Homo sapiens: one gene and its partners. The protein of the gene in region 1 interacts with the protein of each later gene in a pairwise test. Each region holds a gene or a part of one and is shown in the gene's direction. Other genes may lie near its edges. The genes, in order: ZNF410, COL10A1, DPEP2NB, IQUB, VBP1, PDE4DIP and NDUFAB1.

Region 1 (3,500 bases):
CGATCTCGGCTCACTGCAATCTCCATCTCCTAGGTCCAAGCGATTCCCCTACCTCAGCCTCCTGAGTAGCTGGGTCTGCAGGCACATGCCACCACACCTAGCTAATTTTTTGTATTTTAGTTGAGACGGAGTTGCACCATGTTGGCCAGGATGGTCTCAATCTCCTGACCTTGTGTTCCGCCTGCCTCGGCCTCCCAAAATGCTGGGATTACAGGCGTGAGCCACTGCTCCCGGCCTAAATGGTTACTTTTTTACAATGAAAAATGAGGATTTCAGGTAGCTTAGAAAGAGAGAGGGAGAAACCAACAGGACAAAAAAACATTTATTCAGTTACTTTTTTTTTTTTTTGAGATGGAGTCTTGCTCTGTCGCCCAGGCTGGAGTACAGTGACGCAGTCTCAGCTCACTGCAACCTCCATCTCTCGGGTTCAAGCGATTCTCCTGCCACAGCCTCCCGAGTAGCTGGGATTACAGGCACCCGCCACATGCCCGGCTAATTTTTGTATTTTTAGTAGAGACGGGGTTTCGCCATATTGGCCAGGCTGGTCTTGAACTCCTGACCTCAGGTGACCCACCCGCCTCGGCCTCCCAAAGTGCTGGGTTTACAGGCGTGAGCCACCGTGCCCAGCCTAAGTGCCCTCTTTGTAAAGTCTGTCTTGTTCTACCTTTCCACACTACCTGGTATTAATTGGAAACTTTAAAGTACCCATTGATTGAAAATATACCCATCCTGGATACATTTTACACTGTATGATTATTTGTAATAGTGCTCCCAATTTTAGTAACAATTGTACAAAATAAAATGGACTCACATTCCAAAATCCTGAAAAGAAACTAAGCTATAAGAAAGTAAGAATTTAAGTTATAGGGAGTGGCTGGGCGCAGTGGCTCACACCTGTAATCTCAGCACTTTGGGAGGCCACGGCAGGCGGATCACCTGAAGTTGGGAGTTCGAGACCAGCCTGACCAACATGGAGAAACCGTCTCTACTAAAAATACAAAATTAGCCAGGTGTGGTGTCTCATGCCTGTAATCCCAGCTACTCCAGGAGTCTGAGGCAGAATTGCTTGAACCTGGGAGGCAGAGGTTGTGGTGAGCTGAGATCGTGCCATTGTGCTCCAGCCTGGGCAACAAGAGCAAAACTCCATCTCTAAATAAATAAATAAAAGAGAGAGAACAGCCGCATCAGGGTCCTGAGAGCACTACCTTTGGGAAACGCTCTTCAAATTTTAACTTTTTTTTTTTTAAATGTAATTTTAAAAATTATCAAAACAATATGGTTGCCTTTTAGAAATATTGGAAAATTGAGAAAAGAAAATTAAGTCACACCAGCCTACCACACGGTATAGCTACGGTCATAGCTGTATGAATCTCCTTTTACTTTTTCTGATGCTTATTATAACTAGTTTTAATAATAGCAAGTATATAATTTTGTATTTTATTTTTATAATTTAACATGTCAGTCACTTGTTGTTGCATTGTCTTCATAGCATTTGTTTGTTGGTTTGTTTTTTGAGATAGAGTCTTGCTCTGTCGCCCAGGCTGGAGTGCAGTGGTCTGACCTTGGCTCACTGCAACCTCCACCTCCTGGGTTCAAGGGATTCTCCTGCCTCAGTCTCCCGAGTAGCTGGGATTACAGGTGCCTGCGACCATGCTCAGCTAATTTTTGTATTTTTAGTAGAGAGGGGGTTTCACTATGTTGGCCAGGCTGGTCTCGAACTATTGACCTCAAGTGATCCACCTGCTTCAGCCTATCAAAGTGCTGGGATTACAGTTGTAAGCCACCACACCCAACCCTTCACAGCATATTTTGAAGTGACAGTGCCATATTTAATCAACCATTCCCTAATTGGGGGTGTGTGTGTGTGTATACATTGCTTCCAGTTGTTTATTACATAGGATAAGACGGACATCTTTGGACATAGCTCTATCCATATTTAAGATAGTTTTTTAGATTATTAGAGGTTGAAATACTGCATCAAAGCGTAGTATTTTTATGGGTTTTGATGCCTGTTGAGCTTGTTGTATTTTAAAAGAAGTGTTTCGGTTTGAATTCTTTATTTGCTTGCTTGTTGTGATTTTTTTTGTATATGTAAAGAAGTGTCTTTATGTACCTGTGTTTTCCCACTGCTCTTAATGCCCCCTCTCTCTTTTTTACCCCTATTCTAGGTTACATTGATTACCCACCTAGTACAACATCTTACGGGAAGAGCATAGTATTTCCTAGAGGAATATGAACATAACAGGAAGGTATCATTGGCTCTGAATTAAATTTGAACTTGTCCCCTGAATAGCTACAGGTTTTGGAAGCTGAATCAATGTTATCAGATGAGTTAGAATCCAAACCAGAGGTGAGCCCAGTCAGCTTGTTTCCTTTTCTTTTGGTGGGCTATATTTCAAAGTTTATCTTCAGTTTAGGGGGTCAGCAAACTTTTTCTTTAATGGGCCAGATAATAAATATTTTAGGTTTTTTAAGCTATATGGTTTTGATTGTTACTATTTTTTCAAAGATTTAAAAATTATATTTTTTGTGATTGTTTTTATATCTGTTTTTCAGTATATGTGAAATCATACATTTAGATAATGTAATAAAATCTTATAAATAAAAATATATGTTTATGTATAAATATATACATAAATATGAGATACATGTGATGTATAGGTGTATAAGTATATAAATATTTACTACTACAAATTCTTTTGTTTATTTTATATATATCTGTAAGTATTTTCTTTCTAAATGTGATTGGGGATTTAAACATTTTTTGTTGTTCACTTTTCTTACTTTAAATTTAGCACATCTGTGTTGCAGAGTGGTCACTGAATTTGGAATCAGATTACTTAAATTTGAGGATTGGCATTGCTCCTAACTAGTCTTGTGACCTTAGACAAGTCACTTAATGTCTTCAATTTTATTCCTCAGCTGTAAAATATGCCTTAAGTTTGGGTGCGGTGGCTCACGCCTGTAATCCCAGCACTTTGGGAGGCCGAGGCAGGTGGATCATGAGGTCAGGAGTTCAAGACCATCCTGCCTAACATGGTGAAACCCTGTCTCTACTAAAAATACAAAAAAAATTAGCTGGGCGTGGTGGCGGGCACCTGTAGTCCCAGCTACTTGGGAGGCTGAGGCAGGAGAATGGCGTGAACCCAGGAGGTGGAGCTTGCAGTGAGCCAAGATCATGCCACTGCACTCCAGCCTGGGCAACAGAGCAAGACTCTGTCTCAAAAAAAAATACATCTTAAATCTTACTGGGTTAATGCGATAATTAAATGAGCCAGTACACAGAAAAGTGTTTTGTAAAATGTAATCAATATGATGCAGTTGATTTTTTTTAAGCCATTATTTTAAAATGTAATTATTTTTATCATTTCTCTGTTTGACAGAAGGTGGCAGAGGTTAACTTAATTACAGTGAAGTGTCACTTAGCGATAGAGATACATTCTGAGAAATATGATGGTAGTTGATATCATTATTATGCGAACATGGTAGAGTATACTTAC
Region 2 (3,932 bases), on another chromosome or scaffold:
AGAAAGGGAAAAGAAAAAGGACAAATCTTTAGTTCATTCACTGGTCAAACTTTCAATTATTTCAATTATTGATTAGTCCTGAATCCATACTACTTTAATTCTGTGGAGGTAGAAAAATGATGTGTCTATGCCTGTGTATGGAATTGTCCTCCTCAACCAGTTCACCTGCATAGTCAATTTGATTTTGATTCAAAACGATGAAATTAAATAAGATGAAAAATTTGGACTCTCAACTTCCCACCTTTATTAGATTTTTTAGGATCCTAAAAACTGATTTTAAAGGCTTCCTAATATTGTTAAACAGAGTCTAACTACCAAAATTGACAACAATAGTGTTTACTTCCACCTTTGAGGGAAAGTGTTTCTAATTGGGATGATTCCTAACTGCAAGTTAAGCCAATAATATTTTTTTTAAGCTGAAAGCAAAGTTTGAAAATTTTTTTCTCCTGAAATAAACACAGCAATCTTATGTAAATTAACATAATATGAGATTATCAAATTAAGGGGTTTTTGCAAACTCTACTGCAACTCTAAAGTAAACCCAAATTTAAGCAAGAAAATCTGAAGTCATTTACTGAATATAGCGTAGTGTTGTGAATAAGGGATCTAAATCCTAAAAGCCTAAAAGTAATTAAGAATTGGGGTCAGCTATTTTCACAAAAATTTATGAATATTAATAGACACATTGATAACTTTATGTAATAACTCAATAATTTAGATGATGGTCTAAATCCAGTACCCCCTTCAAGGAATTTTATCCGCTTTTATGTACTACCACATATTATATAATATCAACCAATTAACATAAGAATGTGCTTTTCAAAAATAAAAAGGGGGTATCATCATTCCACCGTGAACCAGCCTGAACACTAGAGTATTAATTAATAAAATAGAATCACAGACAAAGACGGTCCTTGGTTAAAACTATTAATATATATTTAAGACAATGGGTTTATTTTTAAATAAGAAAACAAGGAAAAGGAGAGCCCAGCCCGATCTTGTGTGCCTACCCAATAGAACTTTCCACCATAATTAGTGCTTACCAACTTTGAGGGGAGGAGCTTAAGCTCAGGGTAACCTCATGTAGTAAGGGAAAAACAGTATAAATACCACTGAACAGCTCTTGAGAGGCACCTTCTGCACTGCTCATCTGGGCAGAGGAAGCTTCAGAAAGCTGCCAAGGCACCATCTCCAGGAACTCCCAGCACGCAGGTAAGCGTACGCTTACTGGTGGACTTCCATGTTAACTTGCTTGGAAAGAAACTTTAAAGATTTAAATACTTGAGTTTTCTCAAGTATTAGAAGTATTAAAGTGATTTAAAAAATGGGTTTCTACTAAAATGCACTCCAAAAGTTCTTTTTGCATCAGTCTGTGGATGATAGTCCCAATAAAACCATATTGTAAAAATTTGCCCTAATCCGAATTTCAGTGTATTTTGAAACTATTAGATATTTCAGGCTATGTCAAAGATCCTAGATTATTTAATACAGACATCCAATCCTAATTTCTGTTTCTTTTCCTTTAGGTAAATCATTTTATTTTCACTTGATTACCTGAGTATAGCTTCCAAAAATAACTAAGACATATATTCACATAACTAAAAAATGATCTCTCATTTATTTATGGCACATATTAAAAATATATAGGATAGGTTAAAAAAGTAGATAACTGTATAAAGAACTCATCTGTGAAACATGAGAATAAAAAAATAGGTTAATAACAATGCTGTATAAAGTTATTCTTTTCTGTTTTTCAGAATCCATCTGAGAATATGCTGCCACAAATACCCTTTTTGCTGCTAGTATCCTTGAACTTGGTTCATGGAGTGTTTTACGCTGAACGATACCAAATGCCCACAGGCATAAAAGGCCCACTACCCAACACCAAGACACAGTTCTTCATTCCCTACACCATAAAGAGTAAAGGTAAATTGAATTGTATATTTTGTTCTATTAACAAGTTGCTTGTTGCTTTCTATAATCTTAATAATCTCTTTAACAAAATGCATTTAACTTTGGTGTTACTTTCCAACTTCTGAATTAGCCCAAATTATTACAACAAAGTGATCTGTGAAAAAAGTAGAACAAGAATATCCAATAAGTGTAGTAGAAAGGATATACTTGAAAATATAGTTGAAAGATATACCTGCAAAAAATCAGAACTTTTGTGTGTACAAATTTTTTTCTCAGATGCTGCTTTTGCACAAATAACTGCATGTAATCCAGAAATCTTGATCTAATCAAAACTAATCAAGTTTAAAAATTTTAAGCTAAAAATAACTGCCAATTGTATAAAGAAGGTAGCTGGTTTATTTAGCTAAATATTAAACATTTACTTTTAAAACTAATTCAACTAGCCCACAAACAGATATAAAACCGAGTCTTATCAAAAAAATCTGATGGCCTCCCCCCCAACAATGAACAAATGTAATTATGAGAATTGCCAAGCAGGCAAATGAAACTGCAATTCTCATAATTACTTATACATTTTGAATATAGTTTAGCGGTAAAATGCAGAGACTTAACTGTAATGCATAAGCTGTGTGACCTGAGGTAAGTTACTTGTCCTCCCATGCCTTAGTTTCCTCATTTGTAAAATAAGGAGCAGCTATCTCAAGGGCTGCTGCGAAGTTTAAATGAATTAATACCTGTAAAGTGCTTTAAGTGTTGCTATTACTTCTACTACTACTTCTGTTACTCCTAGTTTTATTTCTACTACTTTTAGCTACTAATATAGCCTTCAATAAGTTAACTTTCTTCTTGAATCTGTTGCTTACCTGTCCAGTTTTCTTGGTTACTCTTTGAAGATTACTGAGATAATATATGTAAAGCACTAAGGTTCTCAAAGGAGGGCAACTTCTAGGCCTCATATTCACTAATTTTATTTAACAGCAACTGACACGACCGCCTATAAAATATCTACAGAATAATATAAACTGACTGTAGGCTTCAAACTCCCTTTCCATAATTTTTTAATTATATATTTTATACTGTAAATAAAGCTAAGGATATTTGTTATAAAGTTTAAATATTATGCTTTTGGGAACAACCATTTTGAGCAATGAAACTTATAGAATTGTCTTTTTAAGAAGAAAGATGGAATTTAAAATATTTCACAAAAGGAAACTTAATATTTGAAAATAAATGCACAGGTATACAACAGATACTTTTGAATGTCTCAAAATATAAATAAAAATTTTAAAATTTAAAGGCTAGTAAAGAAAAAAATAAAAGACAAAGCAACCTTCCGCTTTACTTGAAGCAACAAACACAATTTGAAATGCTATGACAAACAGCACTGGATTCAATAGTTTCCATGATCACAAAAATCAGACTTTTTAACACCTTAATAAGAGCATAACAAAGTCTTGAATTAAAAAGAAAATGCACTATTTTAGAAGGTTAAAAATACTTTGATCTTCTCTTAATATACACCATTATCTTGGCTACTTTTGCAGAACAAATGAAAATATCTTAACAAATGAAAAGTTCAGAAGCTGTATTTAAACTACTAAATCCACCTTAGTCTCTTTTTAGATAGACACTCAACTACACTATCATCCATTGGCAGACATTAATGCACCATAACAAACACAAAAGCCCACAGTCTATACAAGTAAGACATTAAGTTGAAACAGGAATTCAAAGAGTTATTACATAATTCCTAGGCATATCCATCCAACACAGGTTAAAAAAGAGTTCTGTCAAAACATACTAAATTATGCTGCAGAGGATTCCACAGCTGGTGGGCAGATGCACGTGCCACATTCTGACACAACCAATCACGATTTCAGTTTGTGGCATTTAAAAAACTTAATAGAAGGAAGTAGTCGTTTTACCTTGAGGATTGTGCCACCCTAATCTTGAATGAAGAAAATTTTTTCAGATGACAACCTACAAACAGGGGCTGTCCCCCAAGCATTCAATAGAAG
Region 3 (4,299 bases), on another chromosome or scaffold:
CTTGAGGACGGGGGAGTTTGAGAGCAGACTGGCCAACATGGCAAAACCCTGTCTCTACTAAAAATACAAAAATTAGCTGGGCGTGGTGGCAGGTGCCTGTAGTCCCAGCTTCTCAGGAGGCTGAGACACGAGAATCCCTTGAAGGGGAGGTTGCGGTGAGTCAAGATCATTGCACCACTGTACTCCAGCCTGGGCAACAGAGTGAGACTCTGTCTCAAAAAACATAAATAAAATAAAAAAGACCTTGCACTTGATGGATCAGCTGACACCACCCAGATTAATCTTGTGGCTCCCCCACCCAGGAACTGACTCGGCAAGAGGATACTTTCGACTACCTAAGATTTCTTTTTTTTTTCCTTTGAGATGGAGTCTCACTCTGTCGCCTAGGCTGGAGTGCAGTGGCATGATCTTGGCTCACTGCAATCTCTGCCTCCTGGGTTTCAGTGCTTCAGCCTCCCAGGTAGCTAGCTGGGGTTACAGACAGCGCCACCACGCCCGGCTAACTTTTTGTTTTTGTTGTTGTTTTTGAGACAGAGTCTCGCTCTGTCACTAGGCTGGAATGCAATGGCTGGATCTCAGCTCACTGCAACCCACACCTCCCAGATTCAGGATTCTTCTGCCTCAGCCTCCCAAGTAGCTGGGACTACAGGCACATGCCACCACACCCAGCTAAATTGTATTTTTAGTAGAGACAGGGTTTCACCATATTGGCCAGGATGGTCTCGATCTCTTGACCTCGTGATCCGCCCACCTTGGCCTCCGAAAGTGCTGGGATTACAGGCATGAGCCACCGCGTCCAGCCTAATTTTTGTTTTTTTAGGGGTTTCACCATGTTGGCCAGGCTGGTCAGCCTCCCAGAGTGCTGGGATTACAAGCACGAGCTGCCACGCCCAAGCTGACTCCCTATGATTTCATCTCTGACCCAACCAATCAGCTTTCCGGACTCACTGCCCACCACCCACCAAATTATCTTTAAAAACTCTGATCCCTGAATGCTTAGGGAGACTGATTTGAGTAATAAAACTCCAGTCTCCCGCACAGCTAGCTCTGCGTGAATTACTCTTTATTGCAATTTCCCTGTCTTGATAAATCAGCTTTGTCTAGGCAGTGGCAAGGGGAACACGTTGGGCAGTTACTCTTTGCGTGTGTCCAGATCTCACCAGTCCTTCAAGTCCAGCTCGAAGGAGCCTTCCATGATCCCTTTGTCCATCCCAATCTCTGCCTCTCCTGCTGTTGATTGCTTAGCACCAGTGCGTGGCTACCTATCTATCTCTTAGATTAATCTTGCCTCTCCAGCTCATATCAGAATTTAGGTTTCTCTTGCCCTCCTGTGGTCACTGGGGCTTGTACCAGCCGACAGATGTGCCCCACAGAGTGGCTACTAGGCATTTGTAGGGAGGGCTGGATGGGAGGGCCCAGGCAGGATTCCTCTCTATCTCTGCCCTGCTCTCCTCCACAAAACCCTGAAGGCCTGAAGCCTGCCCCTTAAGTCACAGATTCCTTAGGTGACTTCACAGGGTAGTGATGACCTCACAAGCTTCCAAAGTTTCCATGGCAGCGTGACTACACACCTGCGTCCTAGAGAAGCCTCCCTACCATTTCTCTGTAAGATACCAATCTGTTTGGTTGGCTGAGAGAGAATGACTGACCGGATCCTCTATATTGTCTCTAACATGTCCTCTGTCCCCTGGGAGGGCAGCGCAGCAGGTAGGCATACAGGGGGCATCTATACAGGAGGCGTTGCTGTACCCACAGCTTCACCTGGCTGACACATTCCTTCTGGGCTGGCCCACCACACCTCGAGCTTTCCCAGCCATAAGTAATATCGAGGGCGTGGCCACTCAGGGACCCACAGTGTTCCTGCTCAGGGCAAGTTCACCTGCTAAGGGCAAGTGAAATGTCATCTGAGCAGGTGCTCAGAAAGGTTCTCATCTTTTTTTTTTTTTTTTTTTTTTAATTGAGATGGGGTCTTGCTATGTTGCTGGGGCTGGTCTGAATTTTTTTTTTTTTTTTTTTTTTTTTTGAGACAGGTTCTCTGTCGTCCAGGTTGGAGCACACTGGCATAATCACAGCTCACTGAAACCTCAACTTCCTGGGCTCAGGGGATTCTCCCAACTCGTCTCCCTAGTAGCTGGGACTACAGGCACGCGCCACCACACCCAGCTAATTTTTTCTCTTTTTAGTAGTGACAGGGTTTCGCCATGTTGCCTAGGCTGGTCTTGAACTCCTGAGCTCAAGCGATCGGCCCACCTCAGCCTCCCAAAGTGCTAGGATTACGGGCGTGAGGCACTGTGCCTGGCCCACCAATTTGTATTAGATCTTTTTATTTTAGTCTCGCTCTGTCACCCAGGCTGGAGTGCAGTGGCACAATATTAGATCCTTTTTTTCTTTTTCTTTTTCTTTTTTGAGACAGTGTCTCGCTCTGTCACCCAGGCTGGAATGCAGTGGTGCGATCTTGGCTCACTGCAACCTCCGCCTCCCAGGTTCAAGCGATTCTCCTGCCTCAGCCTCCCAAGCAGCTGGGACTACAGGTGCGTGCCACCATGCCTGACTAATTTTTTGTATTTTTAGTAGAGATGGGGTTTCACCATGTTGGCCAGGCTGGTACTCCTGGGCTCAAGTGATCCTCCCTCCTCAGTTTCCCAAAGTGCTGAGATTATAAGCGTGAACCACCCCACCTGGCTGATAGTAGATCATTTTTTACAAAACTTGAAAATAATTTCCATTAAAGCCTGAGATGTGACAGACCTTAAGAAATGTATTTTTGGTCATGGAAGGGATGAGGAGGATCTCCTGGTCTCCTGCTGCTGACACAGGCTCCACATAACTGCTTTCACAGCCAGCATCCTGTCTCAGGGACACATAGAGGTGATAGGCCAAGGCTGTGTCTGGGATGCGAAGAAGATGAAAGGACTTCTTAGGAAGAGTCGCGAGAGAGGGTAGGCTGTAACAGCACAATGTATAAGGTAAAAGTGACTAATTCTGGTTTTCTTTCCAGCTGCAGTGCCTGCCACTTCTCCTCCCACACCTGGGCACTACCATGTTCTCTACCGAGGGTGTGGAGAAACTCAGGTAGGCTGGCATGGGGAGACGTACTGCCTGGTTGGTGGCTACCGGGTCCATGGGGATGCTCCTTTGGCCACCCCAACAAAGGCTGAAGCAGAGAAGCCAGCCCCCAGGCGTGCTCCCAAGAGACGTCAAGCTACGATAGAGTCAGATAAAGACCTGGGTTGCTCTAGCCCCAAAATTCGGCGCTTGGAGCATCGTGGCAGGAGACTGACCCCACAGAAGCTTGCTGGCTGAGCCATTTGGGAGAAAGGACAAATGTTTAGCTGTCTAAGACAGCTAATGCCTCTTCTGCGGTGACCTCCCCTGCCCACCACTGCAGATAGAGCCTGAGTCATTCTGCCTATGCCTTCCTCATCCAGAAGCCCCCTTCCATGCTAACTACCCATGGCCAAGGAGCCTCAGAAACTGTGGTTTAAAATGAGAGGTTGCTTTGAACATCCCAAGGCTGAAGACGGCCTGGAAGAAAACCTGATGTTCCTCTACTCATCTCTCCAGAGTCCCTTTTTGGGCAGAAGATAGAAATAGTCTGCACTCTGCTAGCCGAGGAGTCAAGTGCAGAGAGGGAGTGCAGCATAGCCCAGTAAGGGCTTGATCTACCAGATGGGTCTTTGCTTTGAGTCACTGCCAGCAACTACCAGCACAAACCAGGAGGGCCAGGACTTGCTGAAACTGGAAGCAGCAGCCCATGGCTAGTCACAGCAGGAGAAAGCCTCCTGCTTGGCATCTCAGGAGGTAGAAGAAAGAGACCTGGGGAGACCTGCCACCTACAGCAAGAACAATAAGGAGGAAGTTGAGCAACATCCCCCTGAAGCTCACATGTTACTTTATTTCCTGCCCATTATGGCCCCAGTGAGGTCCCTACTGCTCAATTTAAAAAAAAATTAAAAAAATTATTTTTCCATAACAGTATTTGACTTGATCATCTTTTTTTTTTTTCTTTTTTGACGGAGTCTCACTCTGTCACCCAGGCTGGCGTGCAGTGGCACTATCTCGGCTCCCTGCAAGCTCCACCTCCTGGGTTCACGCCATTCTCCTGCCTCAGCCTCCCTGGTAGCTGGGACTACAGGCGCCCGCCACCACACCCAGCCAATTTTTGTATTTTTAGCAGAGACGGGGTTTCACCATGTTGGCCAGGATGGTCTTGATCTCCTGACCTCAAGATCTGCCCGCGTTGGCCTCCCAAAGTTCTGGGATTATAGGCATGAGCCACCATACCCAGCCTCTTTCTTC
Region 4 (3,500 bases), on another chromosome or scaffold:
GTGACAGACGGCACCTGGAAAATCGGGTCACTCCCACCCGAATACTGCGCTTTTCCGACAGGCTTAAAAAACGGCGGACCAGGAGATTATATCCCCCACCCGGCTCGGAGGGTCCTACGCCCACGGAGTCTCGCTAATTGCTAGCACAGCAGTCTGAGATCAAACTGCAAGGCGGCAGCGAGGCTGGGGGAGGGGCGCCCGCCATTGCTCAGGCTTGCTTAGGTAAACAAAGCAGCTGGGAAGCTCCAACTGGGTGGAGCCCACCACAGCTCAAGGAGGCCTGCCTGCCTCTGTAGGCTCCACCTCTGGGGGCAGGGCACAGACAAACAAAAAGACAGCAGTAAACTCTGCAGACTTAAATGTCCCTGTCTGACAGCTTTGAAGAGAGCAGTGGTTCTCCCAGCACGCAGCTGGAGATCTGAGAACGGGCAGACTGCCTCCTCAAGTGGGTCCCTGGCCCCTGACCCCCGAGCAGCCTAACTGGGAGGCACCCCCCAGCAGGGGCAGACTGACACCTCACACGGCCGGGTGCTCCAACAGACCTGCAGCCGAGGGTCCTGTCTGTTTGAAGGAAAACTAACAAACAGAAAGGACATCCACACCAAAAACCCATCTGTACATCACCATCATCAAAGACCAAAAGTAGATAAAACCACAAAGATGGGGAAAAAACAGAGCAGAAAAACTGGAAACTCTAAAAAGCAGAGTGCCTCTCCTCCTCCAGAGGAACGCAGTTCCTCACCAGCAACAGAACAAAGCTGGATGGAGAATGACTTTGACGAGCTGAGAGAAGAAGGCTTCAGACGATCAAATTACTCCGAGCTACAGGAGGAAATTCAAACCAAAGGCAAAGAAGTTGAAAACTTTGAAAAAAATTTGGAAGAATGTATAACTACAATAACCAATAAAGAAAAGTGCTTAAAGGAGCTGATGGAGCTGAAAACCAAGGCTCGAGAACTACGTGAAGAATGCAGAAGCCTCAGGAGCCGATGTGATCAACTGGAAGGAAGGGTATCAGCGATGGAAGATGAAATGAATGAAATGAAGGCTACAAGCCAGAAGAAAGTGGAGGCCAATATTCAACATTCTTAAAGAAAAGAATTTTCAACCCAGAATTTCATATCCAGCCAAACTAAGCTTCATAAGTGAAGGAGAAATAAAATACTTTACAGACAAGCAAATGCTGAGAGATTTTGTCACCACCAGGCCTGCCCTAAAAGAGCGCCTGAAGAAGCGCTAAACGTGGAAAGGAACAACTGGTACCAGCCGCTGCAAAATCACGCCAAAATGTAAAGACCATCGAGACTAGGAAGAAACTGCATCAACTAATGAGCAAAATAACCAGCTAACATCATAATGACAGGATCAAATTCACACATAACAATATTAACTTTAAATGTAAATGGACTAAATGCTCCAATTAAAAGACACAGACTGGCAAATTGGATAAAGAGTCAAGACCCATCAGTGTGCTGTATTCAGGAAACCCATCTCACGTGCAGAGACACACATAGGCTCAAAATAAAAGGATGGAGGAAGATCTACCAAGCAAATGGAAAACAAAAAAAGGCAGGGGTTGCAATCCTAGTCTCTGATAAAACAGACCTTAAACCAACAAAGATCAAAAGATACAAAGAAGGCCATTACTTAATGGTAAAGGGATCAATTCAACAAGAAGAGCTAACCTAAATATATATGCACCCAATACAGGAGCACCCAGATTCATAAAGCAAGTCCTGAGTGACCTACAAAGAGACTTAGACTCCCACACATTAATAATGGGAGACTTTAACACTCCACTGTCAACATTAGACAGATCAACGAGACAGAAAGTCAACAAAGATACCCAGGAATTGAACTCAGCTCTGCACCAAGTGGACTTAATAGACATCTACAGAACTCTACACCCCAAATCAACAGAATATACATTTTTTTCAGCACCACACCACACCTATTCCAAAATTGACCACATACTTGGAAGTAAAGCTCTCCTCAGCAAATGTAAAAGAACAGAAATTATAACAAACTATCTCTCAGACCACAGTGCAATCAAACTAGAACTCAGGATTAAGAATCTCACTCAAAACCGCTTAACTACATGGAAACTGAACAACATGCTCCTGAATGACTACTGGGTACATAACAAAATGAAGGCAGAAATAAAGATGTTCTTTGAAACCAACGAGAACAAAGACACAACATACCAGCATCTCTGGGATGCATTCAAAGCAGTGTGTAGAGGGAAATTTATAGCACTAAATGCCCACAAGAGAAAGCAGGAAAGATCCAAAATTGACATCCTAACATCACAATTAAAAGAACTAGAAAAGCAAGAGCAAACACTTTCAAAAGCTAGCAGAAGGCAAGAAATAACTAAAATCAGAGCAGAAATGAAGGAAACAGAGACACAAAAAACCCTTCAAAAAATTAATGAATCCAGGAGCTGGTTTTTTGAAAGGATGAACAAAATTGATAGACCGCTAGCAAGACGAATAAAGAAAAAAAGAGAGAAGAATCAAATAGACGCAATAAAAAATGATAAAGGGGATATCACCACCTATCCCACAGAAATACAAACTACCATCAGAGAATACTACAAACACCTCTACGCAAATAAACTAGAAAATCTAGAAGAAATGGATAAATTCCTGGACACATACACTCTCCCAAGACTAAACCAGGAAGAAGTTGAACCTCTGAATAGACCAATAACAGGAGCTGAAATTGTGGCAATAATCAATAGCTTACCAACCAAAAAGAGTCCAGGACCAGATGGATTCACAGCCGAATTCTACCAGAGGTACAAGGAGGAAATGGTACCATTCCTTCTGAAACTATTCCGATCAATAGAAAAAGAGGGAATCCTCCCTAACTCATTTTATGAGGCCAGCATCATCCTGATACCAAAGCTGGGCAGAGACACAACCAAAAAAGAGAATTTTAGACCAATATCCTTGATGAACATTGATGCAAAAATCTTCAATAAAATACTGGCAAACCGAATCCAGCAGCACATGAAAAAGCTTATCCAACATGATCAAGTGGGCTTCATCCCTGGGATACAAGCCTGGTTCAATATACGCAAATCAATAAATGTAATCCAGCATATAAACAGAACCAAAGACAAAAACCACATGATTATCTCAATAGATGCAGAAAAGGCCTTTGACAAAATTCAACAACACTTCATGCTAAAAACTCTCAATAAATTAGGTATTGATGGGACGTATCTGAAAATAATAAGAGCTATCTATGACAAACCCACAGCCAATATCATACTGAATGGGCCAAAACTGGAAGCATTCCCTTTGAAAACTGGCACAAGACAGGGATGCCCTCTCTCACCACTCCTATTCAACATAGTGTTGGAAGTTCTGGCCAGGGCAATTAGGCAGGAGAAGGAAATAAAGGCTATTCAATTAGGAAAAGAGGAAGTCAAATTGTCCCTGTTTGCAGACGACATGATTGTATATCTAGAAAACCCCATTGTCTCAGCCCAA
Region 5 (3,500 bases), on another chromosome or scaffold:
AGCCTCCCAAGTAGTTGGAGGGCTACTTTTCTCTTTTTATTTTTCTGGAATTTCTCTCACTCCTATGATGTCAGCTATGCAACAAAACTATTTTTGTGTCATGATCTAGTTGTTTTGCAGCAGATGGCTCTATGTAGTTTACATGCTAGCCTTTTTGTTTTTTTTTTTTTTCAATTTGCTATTATTTTATTTAGGATTTTTGAATTTCTGTTCATAAGTGAGTTCAGCCTATTTCTTTCTTTTTTTAATTTTTTTAGTATTGATCATTCTTGGGTGTTTCTCGGAGAGGGGGATTTGGCAGGGTCATAGGACAATAGTGGAGGGAAGGTCAGCAGGTAAACATGTGAACAAAGGTCTCTGGTTTTCCTAGGCAGAGGGCCCTGCCGCCTTCCGCAGTGTTTGTGTCCCTGGGTACTTGAGATTAGGGAGTGGTGATGACTCTTAACGAGCATGCTGCCTTCAAGCATGTGTTTAACAAAGCACATCTTGCACCGCCCTTAATCCATTTAACCCTGAGTGGACACAGCACATGTTTCAGAGAGCACGGGGTTGGGGGTAAGGTTATAGATTAACAGCATCCCAAGGCAGAAGAATTTTTCCTAGTACAGAACAAAATGGAGTCTCCCATGTCCACCTCTTTCCACACAGACACAGCAACAATCTGATCTCTCCTTCCTTTCCCCACATTTCCCCCTTCTCTATTCGACAAAACCTCCATCGTCATCATGGCCCGTTCTCAACGAGCTGTTGGGTACACCTCCCAGACGGGGTGGCGGCCGGGCAGAGGGGCTCCTCACTTCCCAGACGGGGCGGCCGGGCAGAGGCACCCCCCCACCTCCCGGACGGGGCGGCTGGCCGGGCGGGGGCTGCCCCCCACCTGCCGGACGGGGCGGCTGCCAGGCGGAGGGGCTCCTCACTTCTCAGATGGGGCGGCTGCCGGGCGGAGGGGCTCCTCACCTCTCAGACGGGGTGGCTGGTCAGAGACGCTCCTCACCTCCCAGACGGGGTGGCGGCGGGGCAGAGGTGCTCTTCACATCTCAGACGGGGTGGCTGGGCAGAGGCGCTCCCCACATCTCAGAGGATGGGCGGCCGGGCAGAGACGCTCCTCACTTCCTAGACGGGATGACGGCCTGGAAGAGGCGCTCCTCACTTCCCAGAGTGGGCGGCCGGGCAGAGGGGCTCCTCACATCCCAGACGATGGGCGGCCAGGCAGAGACGCTCCTCACTTCCCAGATGGGGTGGCGGCCGGGCAGAGGCTGCAATCTCGGCACTTTGGGAGGCCAAGGCAGGCGGCTGGGAGGTGGAGGTTGTAGCGAGCCGAGATCACGCCACTGCACTCCAGCCTGGGCACCATTGAGCACTGAGTGAGCGAGACTCCGTCTGCAATCCCGGCACCTCGGGAGGCCGAGGCTGGCAGATCACTCGCGGTCAGGAGCTGGAGACCAGCCCGGCCAACACAGCGAAACCCTGTCTCCACCAAAAAAATACGAAAACCAGTCAGGCGTGGTGGCGCGTGCCTGCAATCCCAGGCACTCGGCAGGCTGAGGCAGGAGAATCAGTCAGGGAGGTTGCAGTGAGTCGAGATGGCGGCAGTACAGTCCAGCCTCGGCTCGGCATCAGAGGGAGACCATGCAAAGAGGGCGAGGGCGAGGGTGAGGGTGAGGCTAGCCTTTTTCTTTGTATGTGTTGTAAATCTTGCAGCCTGTCATTTAACTTTACCCTTCAAGCTGTGTAAAAGTTCCTTAGTATTTCATGTGTTAATCTCTTTTTCGACACTTGAATCTGAGATCTTTTATCTTTCTTTAATTGGAAATTTTGTGATTATCACTTTTTCTATCGTCTGTTAATTTTTTTTCCTCTTTCTTTCTGGGATTCCTGTTTACAGATGTTGACACTTCTAATTCTGCCTTCCATTTATTTATATTATTTCCCTTTTTTCTGTCTTTGTCATTTATCTTTTGGCAATTAGATGGATAGCCATGAGTTCTTTGTTTCAGCTGTTAAGATTTTTATAGCTGGTAGTTCTGGTTGGTTCCTCTTCATATTACCAATATCCTTTCTTTTCTCTTTGTGGTATCTTTAAGTATTTAATGTATAGTTTTATCTTTTGGTATTTGTTAATTTTGTTTCATATGGTAGAGGTTGTTGAATTTATTGTCTTTATTTATTATAATGATCAAATTATAATGTCTTTTCCCTGTCAGCTTAGATTCCCTCAGGGATATCAGCTACTTTGGCCAGTAATGTACGTGGAGGTGGGGGTAATTTAAGTCACTCCTGGTGGGTAGCAGTGGCGCTACCTCGGCTCACTGCAACCTCCACCTCCTGGATTCAAGGGATCCTCCCGCCTCAACTTCCCAAGTAGCTGGGATTACAAGCATGCACCACCACGCCCAGCTAATTTTTTTGTATTTTTTTTTAGTAGAGACTGAGTTTCACCATGCTGGCCAGGCCGGTCTCGAACTCCTGGCCTCAGGTGATCCACCCGCTTCGGCCTCCCAAAGTGCTGGGATTACAGGCGTGAATCACTGTGCCCAGCCAAGCTACTTTCTCTTCAGGTGAAGCAGGGTAGGGAGGAGTGTATTGCTTGGGCATGTGCTGTGTCATTGGTGGTCTGGTTCCTAAGTTAGCTAGGGCTGCATCTGATTGATTCATTAATATGCTTTATAGCATATTACATATAATATTTATATATACAGAATGCATCTTAAAAGTCATTTACATGACAAAAAATCTTGATCTGAACATACTCCTTATGTTGTGTGTGTATCACATATTTTACAAATGTATAACATCTTTCTGTTTACCTATATGAACATATCATGCAAAAATAAGCAAACTTGAGCAATCTATGGCATCCAGATTGAATTGTAGTGAAAAAATGAATGCTAGGTGTTTCTAGATTATTCACTGGACTGTATTATCAAATGATGACACTATGTTTTTTTCTTAAGCAGCAGGCTCATTTAACACATTTCTTGCCAGGTCAGTAGCACAGGGTGTAGTAAATTTGCCCTGCCAACCTGCTGCACACATGGAGTGACTTCTTTTATGTGACGCAATAAGTTCATTTTCATTGTTGTGTTTATATTTTGTTTACATTTTGGTCTCTAATAATATTTAGTAAATTTACCTCGAAAGAACCAGAGCTTCGTTTTTATATCCTTAGTCTGTTTTGCTAGAAATTACATTTGACAGAGACCCTAGAACTGTTTTGCATATATCTCCATGCAAAACACATGCATCTAATTACCATAAAGAGCTAAACCCCAGTGACAAAAACGGTATCATTGTTTTCTCTCTTTAATTGACTGAATGTTTTTAGCATACTGTTTTTCTCTTATGTTCTTGTCAGTGAGGTTGATTGCATTTGGGAGTCACTTACTAGCATTTTGCTAGTAGCTATCATATAACTTATCCATTAAGTCGGATCAGTTGTATCATGTCCATCATTGTTTTTTTAAATTTCTTGTGTTTAAATCAGTGATCCATTTATAATT
Region 6 (3,500 bases), on another chromosome or scaffold:
CTTTTGAGGAGAGTGATCACATCTTGTTTTTTTTTTATCCTGAATAACTAGCAAATTACTTGGTAATTTAGTTAATATTGGATAAAAGAATAAAAGAAACTATTTTTGGTCTCAGGAATTTCGGGAGCTCCTACAGTATCGAGATAACTCAGACAAAACCCTTGAAGCAAATGAAATGTTGCTTGAGAAACTTCGCCAGCGAATACATGATAAAGCTGTTGCTCTGGAGGTATGTATCATCATTTCGCCCACTATGCTATGGATTATTCTATCTACATAGGTATTATAGAAATTTGTGTTTGCTTAAATTTGCTGCTTTGGGATTTGGTTTTCTATTCTGCCATCTTGTTGAATAAGAGTGATCAGGATAGTAAATCTTACAGAGCTTTAGGAGTCTTCCTTTCCTTGCAGCGGGCTATAGATGAAAAATTCTCTGCTCTAGAAGAGAAAGAAAAAGAACTGCGCCAGCTTCGTCTTGCTGTGAGAGAGCGAGATCATGACTTAGAGAGACTGCGCGATGTCCTCTCCTCCAATGAAGCTACTATGCAAGTAAGAGCAAAACCTATCTCTGACTTGGTGTTCCTCTCCCACTTGTATCCTGAGCCTGAAGCATGACCCCCTTCCATCATTTTCTGAAAACCAGGGATTTTGCTTTATAAGGGGGAAGAAAACCAAAAAGAGCAGTTACTAGTTCCATCATTGTCAATTAGCAAGTGAGAGATTTTAGCGCTTCTACTTTTCTTTTGTAATATGAACTTTGTGAGGAGAGCCAGTAAATATTGATTTCTGTTTACATAGTTCTGATTTATTTCCAATTCTTGTTCATACATAAGTATACATACACACACGCTCTTCTCTCTCTCTCTTACTTTTACTGAAGCATTACCAGGGTGCAATTATTAAATTGTGTCTTCTACATTAATATTATCTACATGTCCATGAATTGCCATAATTAGAACACTTGTTTATCTATATTTACTGTGGACTTTTTTGCATATTTATTTTAGAGCTTATGTATCTATCTGCCACTTTTTCGAGAAATCCTTTATAGCATAGTGCACTTCCTCCAAAATACTTCCTTTTATCATATATTCTATATTTAATCTCTCCACAAACTAGATAAAAGTTTCTAAAAACCAAAAAAATAGATTAGTATGGCATTGTTAGATCAATGTTCTCATCTTGCAAATAAAAAAAAATTGATGGGAGATTATTTAAAAGTGGATCTAATTTCTTGTTTATCCTGAGGAGTATGGGGTAATCATTTTGACTGATTATTGCTCTCTTTATGGCTGTAGAGTATGGAGAGTCTCCTGAGGGCCAAAGGCCTGGAAGTGGAACAGTTATCTACTACCTGTCAAAACCTCCAGTGGCTGAAAGAAGAAATGGAAACCAAATTTAGCCGTTGGCAGAAGGAACAAGAGAGTATCATTCAGCAGTTACAGACGTCTCTTCATGATAGGAACAAAGAAGTGGAGGCAAGACTTCAGTTAACTTTAAGGCAGTTGGTTCAGTGATTATGTAATCTCAGCCTTGGATTAGGACTCTTCAGATTGGGAGGACTGTGACCCAAGTCTTTAATTTCATTCTGTGCCTGGGCAAGTCATTGACTTTCACTGGGATTTTTTTTTTCCCCACGTCTAGAAACTTAAGTTGGCAATTAACTTTCTCAAAGAACTTATGTGAGAATTAATGAGACCCAAAAATTGCATCTTTAACATGATAGCTAACCTTTATTAGTTATAGTCTTCATGCTGGGTCAGGTACTGTTTTAAGATCCTAATGGATATTAACTCATTGGATCCTCACAAGTCCATGAGGTACTTTCTATTATTCCTTTTTATAGAGGAGGAAACAGACTTCTGAAGCTAAGTAACTTGTCCAAGCTAACATAGCTAATAAGTAGCAGATCCAGTATCAACCTAGGCAGTATGGCTCCATTCCTCCACCATGTGCCATCAGTTAGTACAGAAATAGAAACCATCGCTATGATAGCAAATATAGTGTTTAGTATTCCTTTCAGCTTATCGTTTTATGCTTCCCCCTGTTAAGTTACACTGGGGAGAAAACAAATAAATGAACTGAGTGTCCATTTATCCTCATCTAACATTAATTGTTACATGCCCTGAACAAATAGGAAAAAGACTTATTTCAGAAAACAATATGTATGTAAGTGGCCACCAGAGATAGTTTTCTGTATGGTTTGTATTCATTCCTGGGACATGTATTTAGAGACTTCTGTGTAGCAGGCCTGTGCTAGATCTGGTAAAACAAAAATGAGTAAAACATGATACTTATTCTCAAGAATCTCACACCTCCTTCTTCTATGATAGATTCTTATAAGCCCTTTGATATTTAGCAGAGGCATTTCTTTCCTCCAGAAGCTTACAGTGTCCTTTCTGCATTAGGATCTTAGTGCAACACTGCTCTGCAAACTTGGACCAGGGCAGAGTGAGATAGCAGAGGAGCTGTGCCAGCGTCTACAGCGAAAGGAAAGGATGCTGCAGGACCTTCTAAGTGATCGAAATAAACAAGTGCTGGAACATGAAATGGAGATTCAAGGCCTGCTTCAGTCTGTGAGCACCAGGGAGCAGGAAAGCCAAGTAAGGATTAATGCACAGATCAGACAAGTGTCATGTAGTGCATTTATAGTCTGCAAATAGGAAGCATTTGCAGACTATAGATGTGTGTATATTTATATATTTTACCGTCAACTCTGTTAGTTTCTTTCCTTCTATTTATTACCTAAACCACAGTTTTATTTATTTACTTACTTATTTAGAGATGGGGGTTTCGCTGTGTTGCACAGGCTGGTCTCAAACTCCTGGGCTCAAGCAATCATCCTGCCTTGGCTTCCCAAAGTGCTGGGACTATACGTGTGAGCTGCTGCGCCTGGCCTTAGACCACAGTTTTACATTAATCATCAAAGTATGACACATTTCTTGAAAACCTTGCATTTGGAAGGGTGCCTAAACAATACATGTATCCATTAACTTCATTACATACATTTTCTTTTCCTTAATAATCTGATAATTTTGAGAGAAAGGAGTAGGGGTTGTGAGTGTTTCGATTTTGATTCTAAATTGTTAAGACTTGAGTGATATTTTGCATTTCCAGTCAAGGTATGGGAAAACTTACACTCAACATGTTTACTCTTAGTTTTTGTAAAATCTGAGTTAAGAGGGAAAAAAGATCGCATTTTTCAGAGGTCATGGTGAGAATAAACAATCTCATAATAGTACAGGGTATATTAATTTCACAATATTTAAGAAGTAAATTCTTTTTTTTTTTTTTTTTTGAGATGGCATCTCCCTCTGTCACCCAGCTGGAGTGCGATGGCGCAATCTTGGCTCACTGCAACCTCTGCCTCCTGGGTTCAAGCAATTCTTCTGCTTCAGCCTCCCAAGTAGCTGGGATTACAGGCATGCACCACCATGCCCGCTAAGTTTTGTATTTTTAGTAGAGATGGGGTTTCACCATGTTGGCCAGGCTGGCTTACG
Region 7 (3,500 bases), on another chromosome or scaffold:
TGGTTGGTTTGTCCTCCTACCTTGTTGGGACACTTTGCCTTTCAGGCTGGAGTGCAGTGGCATGATCGTGGCTCACTGCAGCCTTGACCTCCTGGACTCAAATGGTCCTCCTGCCTCAGCTTCCTGAGTAGCTGGGACTACAGGCATGAGCCACCACCCCTAATTTTTTGATGTCTGTCTTCTTTTTAGAGACGGAATCTCCTTATGTTGCCTAGGCTAGTTGTGAACTCTTGGGCTCAAGCAATCCTCCTGCCTCAGCCTCCCAAGTGCTGGGATTACAGGCATGAGCCATCACACCTGGTGTGCCTAACCCTTAAATGTTGGTGGGCTCCCGAGTTCTCTTACCACACATGCTCCCTGGACTCTTCACTCCTGGTTTCTGTTATTGCTGTATATCCCAGACCTCCGCCTCCAGTCCTTGTTCATCTCATTTGGACCATTGCTCATGCTACCTATTCCCTGCTGTGAAATTTCCTCTCCTCAAATCCATCCACTATGCCAACTTCAGAGCAACTAGTCACTCATTTACACCCTTTTTCCCAAAAGGAGCTAAGGCAGTTTTCCTGGGTATAAAAATACCAGATGATATAAAATAGAAGGTAAGGAAAAAACAAAAAAACAAAAACCAAGGGCAATGGCCTAAAATGCAGCCTGGAAGTCTTATACTTGATCCAGGTAGGCCCCGAATCTACACTGTCTAGCAGATGGAGCACAAAGATAATTTCCAGCAGTTCTATGGGGCATGGTACGCAGATGAAGACAGCACTTGTACAAAAAAAAGCTAGCTATTCCAGGACTGGGACCAGGACCAGACAAAGTCCCAGTCCCTTCCCATGGCCCTTAAGGCTCTGCAGACCTGGGCCCTCCCTCTTAGCCTCCAAGCCTGTCATCTGTGTACCATCTCCCAACATGAGCTGATGTCTTCTCACATAGACACAGGCACTGCACTTTCATGACTTTTTTTTTTTTTTTTTTTCCAGACAAGGTCTCTGTCACTTAGGCTGGAGTGCAGTGGCATGATCATATATCAGTGCAGCTTCAAACTCCTGGGCTCAAGCAATCCTTCTGCCTCAGTCCCTTGACTAGCTGGGATAACTGGCCTGCGCTACCACGCCTGACCTCATTTCGTTTTCTTGACCTGTTCTTCCCTCTCCTTGAATTATCAGTCTCAGCTCTTTTCCTCACCAAATCCAAGTCTGGCATCCTCCTTTCCGGCCACTCAAGGACTGAGTGACAACTTTTGTTATTGCATCAGCCTACAGATACTTCTGTCATGGTGCTTGCCATATTTTTATTTCAACTAAAATGATCTGTGGATTGGTCTTTTCCATTAGAGTGTAAGCTTCTTTTGGGGGAAGGTTGTGTCTTATTCATCTTTGCATTTCCAGCCCATTGCACAGTTCTTGGCACACAGGTAAAGTTCCCAGGCTTCTGAGACAGTCGTGTAAATAAAGGCAAGGCATTGTGAAACAGGTGTGTGTAGTGCAAAAGCAAAAAGAGATACTTGACCAATCTCTCAGTGAACGTGATCTTGAAGGCCTGTGCAGAGGCCAGGAAGAGCCTGGCACTTACCTCCTTGTGGTTGACTCTTAGGGTGTCTGGAAGGGAACATTGTTGGGGGGAAGAGAGTGAGCATATCATGAAGGGAGCTGTATGCTGCAGCGAGGAATTGTGGGTATTCTCTGCAAAGGTCATAGGGAGTGAACATGAAACAGGGCTTATTGAAGGAATAAGCCCCAGGTGGCGGAGAAGGAACAGAGGTCTGTAAGCAGGAGTTTTGGAGACAGGTCAGGAGTTCATTTCCAAACTGTTGAGTTTGAGAGGTCTGGGCTGCCTGTGTAGAGTGGACCAGTCGGCAGTTTGTAGAGACGGCCTTTAAAGCCCTCTCCTTAGCCTCCTCTGAGTTTGCCTCAGGCAGAAGTGAGCCCCAGTGGAGTACCGGGATTCTGATGGAACCTCATCTGTTTGAATTACTAGCCCAGAGGGTCATCACTCTTTACCTGCAAACAGTACCTTCTCTGATGTCTGGGAGAGGTGGTTTATTTCCCATATACTTGTTAAGTGTAGATCTTGGGGAAGAACAACTAACACCAGAAACATCACATGTTGGCTGTTGGGGAGGTGCTTGTCCATTTTGTATCCCTTTTATTTTTTCCCAATCAACAGAGATCCAGTTAGAAGGAGCAGCAAGACCTTCCAGGAGGCCATGCTGGAAGGACATGGGGTGAGGAGGATACCTAACCTTCCCTTGCCTCAGTTTCTCATCTGTAAAAAGGAGGGTGATAGTATCATGGATCTCACCAGAATACTGGAGAGCTGAAGAAAGATGATGTGTGTAAAGTGCAATATCATAGCCTGAGCTGATAAGAAATTAATGGAGGCCGGGACGTGGTGGCTTATGCATGTAATCCCAGCACTTTGAGAGGCTGAGGTGAGTGGATCACTTGAGACCAGGAGTTCAGGACCAGCCTGGCCAACATGGTAAAACCTCATCTCCACTAAAAATACAGAAATTAGCCAGGCATGGTGGTGCACGCCTGTAATCCCAGCTACTTGGGAGGCAGAGGCATAAGAATCACTTGAACCTGGGAGGCAGAAGTTGTGGTGAGCCAAGGTCACAACACTGCACTCCAGCCTGGGCAACACAGTGAGACTCTGTCTGAAAAAAAAAAAAAAAAGAGACCAGAGGCAGGAGCATGAGAGGGTAGTAGGATCAAGTATTTTGGGGCTACGCTACAGCCAAGGTATCAAACTAGCTGCTGCTGGTCATTGTTCTCAGGATCCTACTAAATAACCCTAAATAGCACTTACTGTGTTAAGTGCCAGCCAATGTCCAAGCCTTTACTTCATCTCACTGATGCTTCACAACAGTCCTGTGAGTGTGGTACTGTTGTTTATCCCCATTTTACAGATGAGGAAACTGAGATGTAGAAGGTTAAGTAACCCACCCAAGGCCAAACAACTAGTGAGAGCCAGCACCATGGTGCAGGCATAGGTGGTCTAGTTTCAGCGTCTGAGCTCTTGCCCACTAACTTACTGCCTCACGCTGATCCTGATGCAGCACCCACTCTAGATTGGCATGTGGCCTCCAGTCAGAGACTCGTTTAATTTAATCACATGGTGCCCACCTGGCCCTTGTAGGTACTTGCTGGAGCTGCTGAGGACAATGCTGACAACCTAGTTGGCCTCATGGGTAGTTGTGTACGAACATAGAATATACCCTCACCAGGGGTCTTGCTTTGTTGCCCAGGTTGGTCTGGAACTCCTGGGCTCAAGCGATCCTTCCACTTTGGCCTCCCAAAGTGTTGGGATTACAGGCGTGAGCCACCACACCTGGCATCGTACCATTTCTTTTTTTTTTTTTTTTTTTTTTTCTTTTTGGAGACAGAGTCTCACCCTGCCGCCCAGGCTGGAGTGTAGAGCCATGATCTCAGTTCACTGCAACCTCTGCCTCCTAGGTTCAAGTGATCCTCCCACTTCAGCCTCCTGATTAGCTGGGA

The links.
Region 2: the proteins of ZNF410 (region 1) and COL10A1 interact in binary tests that used the Homo sapiens proteins (3 or more experiments, as listed by UniProt).
Region 3: the proteins of ZNF410 (region 1) and DPEP2NB interact in binary tests that used the Homo sapiens proteins (3 or more experiments, as listed by UniProt).
Region 4: the proteins of ZNF410 (region 1) and IQUB interact in binary tests that used the Homo sapiens proteins (3 or more experiments, as listed by UniProt).
Region 5: the proteins of ZNF410 (region 1) and VBP1 interact in binary tests that used the Homo sapiens proteins (3 or more experiments, as listed by UniProt).
Region 6: the proteins of ZNF410 (region 1) and PDE4DIP interact in binary tests that used the Homo sapiens proteins (3 or more experiments, as listed by UniProt).
Region 7: the proteins of ZNF410 (region 1) and NDUFAB1 interact in binary tests that used the Homo sapiens proteins (3 or more experiments, as listed by UniProt).

What each region holds. Positions count from the first base shown.
Region 1 is NC_000014.9:73,889,859-73,893,358, forward strand, and holds part of ZNF410 (zinc finger protein 410), read left to right. Parts: intron 1-2,168; 5' UTR 2,169-2,317; coding exon 2,318-2,350; intron 2,351-3,500. UniProt on the Homo sapiens protein: Transcription factor that binds to the sequence motif 5'-CATCCCATAATA-3', and is specifically required to silence expression of fetal hemoglobin in adult erythroid cells.
Region 2 is NC_000006.12:116,123,333-116,127,264, reverse strand, and holds the start of COL10A1 (collagen alpha-1(X) chain precursor), read left to right. Parts: upstream 1-1,132; 5' UTR 1,133-1,212; intron 1,213-1,757; 5' UTR 1,758-1,772; coding exon 1,773-1,926; intron 1,927-3,932.
Region 3 is NC_000016.10:68,013,112-68,017,410, reverse strand, and holds DPEP2NB (DPEP2 neighbor protein), read left to right. Parts: upstream 1-1,499; 5' UTR 1,500-1,640; coding exon 1,641-1,707; intron 1,708-2,998; coding exon 2,999-3,303; 3' UTR 3,304-3,975; downstream 3,976-4,299.
Region 4 is NC_000007.14:123,524,596-123,528,095, reverse strand, and holds part of IQUB (IQ motif and ubiquitin-like domain-containing protein), read left to right. Parts: intron 1-3,500. UniProt on the Homo sapiens protein: Adapter protein that anchors the radial spoke 1 (RS1) complex to the A microtubule of outer doublet microtubules in axonemes. The triple radial spokes (RS1, RS2 and RS3) are required to modulate beating of the sperm flagellum.
Region 5 is NC_000023.11:155,222,960-155,226,459, forward strand, and holds part of VBP1 (prefoldin subunit 3), read left to right. Parts: intron 1-3,500. UniProt on the Homo sapiens protein: Binds specifically to cytosolic chaperonin (c-CPN) and transfers target proteins to it. Binds to nascent polypeptide chain and promotes folding in an environment in which there are many competing pathways for nonnative proteins.
Region 6 is NC_000001.11:148,966,428-148,969,927, forward strand, and holds part of PDE4DIP (myomegalin), read left to right. Parts: intron 1-115; coding exon 116-229; intron 230-411; coding exon 412-549; intron 550-1,298; coding exon 1,299-1,478; intron 1,479-2,408; coding exon 2,409-2,603; intron 2,604-3,500. UniProt on the Homo sapiens protein: Functions as an anchor sequestering components of the cAMP-dependent pathway to Golgi and/or centrosomes.
Region 7 is NC_000016.10:23,589,817-23,593,316, reverse strand, and holds part of NDUFAB1 (acyl carrier protein, mitochondrial precursor), read left to right. Parts: intron 1-2,166; coding exon of another isoform or gene 2,167-2,224; intron 2,225-3,500. UniProt on the Homo sapiens protein: Carrier of the growing fatty acid chain in fatty acid biosynthesis.